2 separate regions of the Homo sapiens genome follow, and region 2 is linked to region 1. Evidence: fine-mapped expression QTL. A gene starts in region 1. The other region holds a variant in brackets. All regions are shown on one strand. Distances are between the middles of the regions.

Region 1 (2,908 bases):
TAAACCCCATCTCTACTAAAAATACAAAAATTAGCCAGGCGTGGTAGCGGACACCTGTAATCCCATCTACCTGGGAAGCTGAGGCAGGAGAATCACTTGAAGCTGGGAAGCAGAGGCTGCAGTGAGCTGAGAACTCGCCACTGCACTCCATCCTGGAGTCTCTGTCTCAGGAAAAAACAAAGCCTCTGATCAGAGGATCCAGGGATGTGGGCAGTTCTAGCCCCACCTGCTGCCCCTCTGGGCCGTAAGTCCACTCCCCCACCCACTTCCCACGGTTCAGGCCACATGGACCCTTTTCTGGTCCTCAAGTGGCCAAGTTGGTTCCCACCTCAGAGCCTTTGAACTTGCAGGCCTTAGCGTAGGATGTTCCTCCCTCCCCGTGGCTCACGCCTTCTCACCTTTCACTTACACAATTTTATTTATTTTACTGCATCCAGTACCTGAATGGCCTTATGCACTTACTTGCTGATGTTCTGTCCCCTTCACGCCATGAAGGCTGGGAGTTTTCTGTCTTTTCACACACAGCTGTGTTCCCAGCACCTGGCAGTCACTGAGGACATATCGCTGCCTCCCCTCTCCAATGCCCCGAATCCCTGATCTTGCACCAATTTTCTCCGTAAAATGTATTCCCTTCCAATATATCTCATTTGCTTATATGTGTTGTCTGACACCCTCACTAGAATGTCAGCTCCAGAAGGGCAAGGATCTTGTTTTGTTAATTGTTTAATTTCAAATGCTTAAAAGGGCATATGGCACGCCGTAGGCACTGGATAAATATCTGTTGGGTGAACGAATGAAAGAATAAGTGAATGAATGAGGACCATAACCCACCCTCCTGGACTGGCTGGCTGTCCCTCCAGGGAAAAAGGCCAGTTAAAAAGCTGGCCTCCTTCAGGTGAAACCATTTCCGTCCCCTCAGGATGGGCCCGTGGCTCCAGGTGGAGGCCAGCACGCAGTGTGGAGGGCCTGGTTGGCCAGATGTGGGAGGAGTTTGCCACAGGTGAGCAGGTGGCCAGCTGTGGCCCCGCCCCCAGGAGGCCCGTCCCCACCCGGAGGCTTCGCCAGCCCCCTCCTCGGGGGCCCCGCCCCGTCCAGGAAAGCCCGCCCACTCCTCCTGAGGCCCCGCCCCTCCCGGGAGGCTCCGCCGGTCCCTGCCCCAGGATCCCCGCCCCCTCCGTCACTGAGGCCCCGCCCCGTCCATCAGCCTGTCTCAACGCACGCCAGTCTCAGCTCCGACCTTGCAGCGGCGCAGCGCGGGTGGGAGGCGGGGAGGAGCAGCGGGAAGAGCGGAGCGAGGACCGCGTCCGGCGCAGTCTTCAATGAGCAGCGCGGAAACTGCACCCCAGACCCGAGCCTGCTGCGCGCCCCCTCCCAGAGCTCACCTGGTGCCAGGTAACAGGTAAGGGCAAGGCACCCTAGACCCCTGGTTTTGGGACCTTTCCAGGCCAGGGTGCCAGGCCAGGCACGCGTTGGGGGGCGTCTGGGCACCCCTGCCTCGGTGGGAATAGGCATCTCGGTTGAAGGTGGGAGCCTCCCTGGAGCCCTCCCGGAGCCCGCAGCCGCAGCTCCCAGCCCCCATCCCTGCAGCATCCTTTCCGCGCCCGTAGGGCGAATGTTGCCATTTTTTTTAACCCCCAAGGCGCCGCTGCCTCTTGGAAAATGTGGGAGGTGTTGGAGGATCCTGGGATGGCTGTCGTTCCCCCAGGACGGGGCTGGCGCGCCTTCTGAGGGCTCCCACTGTCCATGTCAGGGCTTCCCAGGGATCCTGAGCACCAGGGCTTTGGCAGAAGCCTGGGGGATCTGGCCTGTTCCTGCTGACCTGGGCAAAGCCCTTTTCTCAGTCTCCTCAGCAGGCCAGTGGGCTGCCGCTGCTCCCCGCCATCCACGCTGGCAGTGAGGCCTGTAGGTTCCCAGGGGAGCCTCTTTTATTTCTGGGCCTCTGGAAAAAAAAAAAAAGCCTCCTCCCCCGGCCTGACATTAACTGAGACAGCTTTAAGCTGGGCTGACAGGATCCCCGCCTCTGCCCATTCCCCTTTTCCGGATAGTGCAGGGCCGGGTGACAAGAGGAGGCTTGGAGGGAGGGCACCTCGCGCCTCTCTGCCTCTCCTAGAGCTGAGAGCACCTGAGACAGCTTCTCAAGTCCCAGAGTGAGGCTGGGCCCCACGTGGGCTGCCAGAGGCTCAGCAGGGATGAAATCAGGATGGACCCACGCAGACCCAGCCCGCTCCTGCCCCAGAGCCAGGGACCCCCACAGTCAGGCCCTCCCACCCAGCAGGCCTCTGTCAGTCAGTGCTTTGCTGCGCAGCGAATGGAATGGGCTTATCTGGGTCTGGGCCCACACCGGGGTAAAAAGCTCACCATGTCAGGGGTGAACCGAGGCCACTGGGCCACCCAAGTTCTTTGGCCCCTTTTCTTGCAATCCCTGAATAGCCTGGACAGGGGACCCCCGAGTCTCCATCCTGGAGACCCTGGATGCGGGTCTCCATCCTGCCTTCGTCCTTTTTCTGCGTGTCACTTAACCTCTTCTGTCTCCCCAGCTGTAAAACGAAGCTGATGACCACAGGGTCCTCCCAGGGAAGTGGGGAGGCCTGGCTGCTTTGGGAGGTGCCAGGCACATAGTAGGGCCCGGTGAAGGGTCTCTGTTGCAGTGTCATAATAACTTTTATCTATTGTCTCCTGGCCTTCTCTGCAAAGGGTCTCTGTTGCAGCGTCATAATAACTGCTATCTATCGTCTTCTGGCCTTCTCTGCAGCTGATGCCTAGAGATACCCCAACCAATGTCTCCTACCCTGGGAAGAAAAGCCTTTGACAAGACCCCTGGTGGGGACAAGGCCACTTGCTTATCCTGTGCCATTCTTTAGTGCACGGAGTCAGGGCGAGCCACCCCTGTCTTCCTGGGCCTTGTCCG
Region 2 (2,908 bases), 220 kb before region 1:
TCCTGAACTCAGGTGATTCACCCGCCTCAGTCTACCAAAGTGTTGGGATTACAGGTGCGAGCCACGGCGCCCAGCCCAGAATTACCTCTTACGTAATATATGGTATGAGTAGGAATTGAACTTGATCCTCCCTGCCTCCAATGATTAACCAGTTGTCCCAGAATCATTTTTAAATAGATTTTCCTTCCCTTACTGACTTCTGTTGTACATTTTATTTCCTTCTCGTGTAAATCTCCTTTGAGGCTCTGAGCTGTTCCATTGGTCTGTCTCTGAATTGGAACCACATCATGTAAATTATTAGTATTTTATAACAAGTGTTGATTTTTGGTGCCATTTCCTTATCTCGTTTTTTTGCTCTTGTAAAAATTATTTTGCCTATTTCTTGGCTTTGTTTTGTTTCATACAAATATTACTGTCAGCATGCCACTCTGCTTTCGATTGGAATTGCACTGAATTTACAGATTTATTTGGAGACAGCTGAGACTTGAAATATTGATTCTTCCCATACATGAACGTGGTTTAAATCTCAAGTATTTTTCTTTTTTAAAAATTAAGGCCTTTTACATCCTTTGTTCATTTTTTTCTCGAGGTATATCATATTCTAGTATTTATGTATTTCTAAATAATGTACTGATATTGTTCGTTCGTTCTTTTTTTTTGAGACAGAGTTTCGCTTTTATTGCCCAAGCTGGAGTGCAATGGCGCAATCTTGGCTACTGCGGCCTCTGCCTCCTGGGTTCAAGTGATTCTCCTACCTCAGCCTACCAAGTAGCTGGGATTATAGGCGAGCACCACAACACCCGGCTAGTTTTTTGTATTTTTGGTAGAAACAGGGTTTCACCATGTTAGCCATGGCTGGTCTCGGACTCCTGACCTCAGGTGATCTGCCCGCCTCAGCCTCCCAAGGTGCTGGGATTACAGGCGAGAGCCACTGCGCCTGGCCTCTTTCTTTCCTTTTTGAGATGGAATCTTGTTCTGTCGCCCAGGCTGGAGTGCAGTGGCATGATCTTGGCTCACTGCAACCTCCACTTCCTGGGTTCAAACAATTCTCTTGCCTCAGCCTCCTGAGTAGCTGGGGTTACAGGCGCGTGCCACCATGCCTAGCTAATTTTTGCATTTTTAGTAGAGATGAGATTTCACCATATTGGCCAGGCTGACCTCGAAATCCTGACCTCAAGTGATCCACTTGCCTCAGCCTCATGAAAGGCTGGGATTACAGGAATGAGCCCCTGTGGCTGGCTCGATATTGTTATTTCTTAAATTTTACATATTATCTATAATTGTGGTGGGTGAAGATCTAGGTCCTAGCTGAAGATGAAGATCTAGATCCTAACTGTGATTCTGGGTGTATGTTTTCTTCAGATTTGAAGGCTTTGTTTTATTGCCTATGACATGATCAATTCTTTTCCTTTCTCTCCCCTCCCATGGCTTTCAAAGTTTCAAGCCTGCAGAAAAATTGTAAGAATGATACAATGAAAACCCTTGTATATTCTTTACCTAGATTTACCAGTTGTGAGTATCTTACAGCATTGCTTTGTCTTCATAGAGATATAAACTTTTTTCTTTTGCTGAACTATATTTGAGAGTAAATTAGACACTATGATAATTTACCCTTAAATACCTCAATAGGTATCTCTGAAGAACAGAGATATTCTCCTGTGTAATCTCTTTTTTTTTTTTTTTTTTTTTT[TTG/G]AGACGGAGTTTTGCTCTTATTGCCCAGGCTGGAGTGCAATGGCACGATCTCAGCTCACCACAACCTCCGCCTCCCGGGTTCAAGCAATGCTCCCGCCTCAGCCTCCCAAGTAGCTGAGATTACAGGCGCACACCACCCCATGCCCAGCTAATTTTTGTATTTTTAGTAGAAACGGGGTTTCACCATGTTGGTCAGGCTGGTCTCGAACTCCTGACCTCGTGATCCACCCGCCTCGGCCTCCCAAAGTGCTAAGGATTACAGGCTTGAGCCACCATGCCCGGCCTCTCCTGTGTAATCTCAATGTACTTTTCATCCTCAGGAAATTTAACATTGATATAATACTAATATGTAAATACATTCTGTCTATATTCAAATGTTGCCAGTTGTCTAAATAATATCCTTTATAGATGTATTGTTTTTTGCTTTTTAATCCAGAATCCAATCAAGGATCACACATTGCATTTATTGTTATCATTTCTTTGAGACAGGATCTCACTCTGTCACCCAGGCTGGAGTACAGTAGGCATATTCATAGCTCACTGCAGCCTCAACCTCCAGGGCTCAAGTGATCCTCTTACCTCAGCCTCTCCGACTGCTGAGACTACAGACACTACAGGCTATCACACCTGGCTAATTTTATTTTTTTGTAGAGATGCGGTCTCACTATGTTGCTCTTGCTGGTCTCCAACTCCTGAGCTCAAGCGATACTCCCACACTGGCCTCCCAAAGTGCTGGGATTACAGGCATGAGCCAATGTGCCTGGCCCACATTGCATTTAGTAATCATGTTTCTCATTCCTTTCTAATGTGGTTCTTTTTTTCTCTTTCTGGAAGTTTTTTAGGATCATCTTTTTATCCTTGGTATGCCGAAATTTTGTAACAATATTTTTTTTTTTTTTAGTTTCTAACAACTCTTTTTCTGATTGATCATTTTTAATAGCTTTCTATTCCTGTTTTGAATCTAATGTTGTTATTTCTTTGAGAATATTATGGCTTCCATTGGACTGTTTCTGTAGTTTTCATTATTCTGAGTTAAGCTTTTGTTTTCATTTGAAGTATCTTTCATATTTAATGTCTTTTTCCAAGTGTTGGTTCTTTTGCAGGCTCACATTTAAGAGGCACTAGGCTGGGTGTGGTGGCTCACGCCTATAATCTCAGTGCTTTGGGAGGCTGAGACGGGTGGATCACTTGAGGCCAGGAATTTGAGACCAGCCTG

Evidence for each region. PIP is the estimated chance that this variant, and not a neighbour inherited with it, causes the effect.
Region 2: its variant is the best candidate, but not a certain one, in a credible set for the expression of ABCB9 in whole blood (INTERVAL, PIP 0.74).

The regions. Positions count from the first base shown.
Region 1 is chr12:122,964,778-122,967,685 of GRCh38, reverse strand. It overlaps ABCB9 (ATP binding cassette subfamily B member 9), which reads left to right and starts at 1,223. Exons shown (of 12, transcript NM_019625.4): 1 at 1,223-1,399. RefSeq lists a silencer at 915-1,204 and enhancers at 969-1,774, 1,775-2,582.
Region 2 is chr12:123,185,012-123,187,919 of GRCh38, reverse strand. The region is part of intron 13 of MPHOSPH9 (M-phase phosphoprotein 9); the gene reads left to right. Among named protein-coding and RNA genes, the nearest start is that of PITPNM2, 35 kb to the right of the region's middle. The variant TTG/G (reference allele first, on the strand shown) is at 1,691.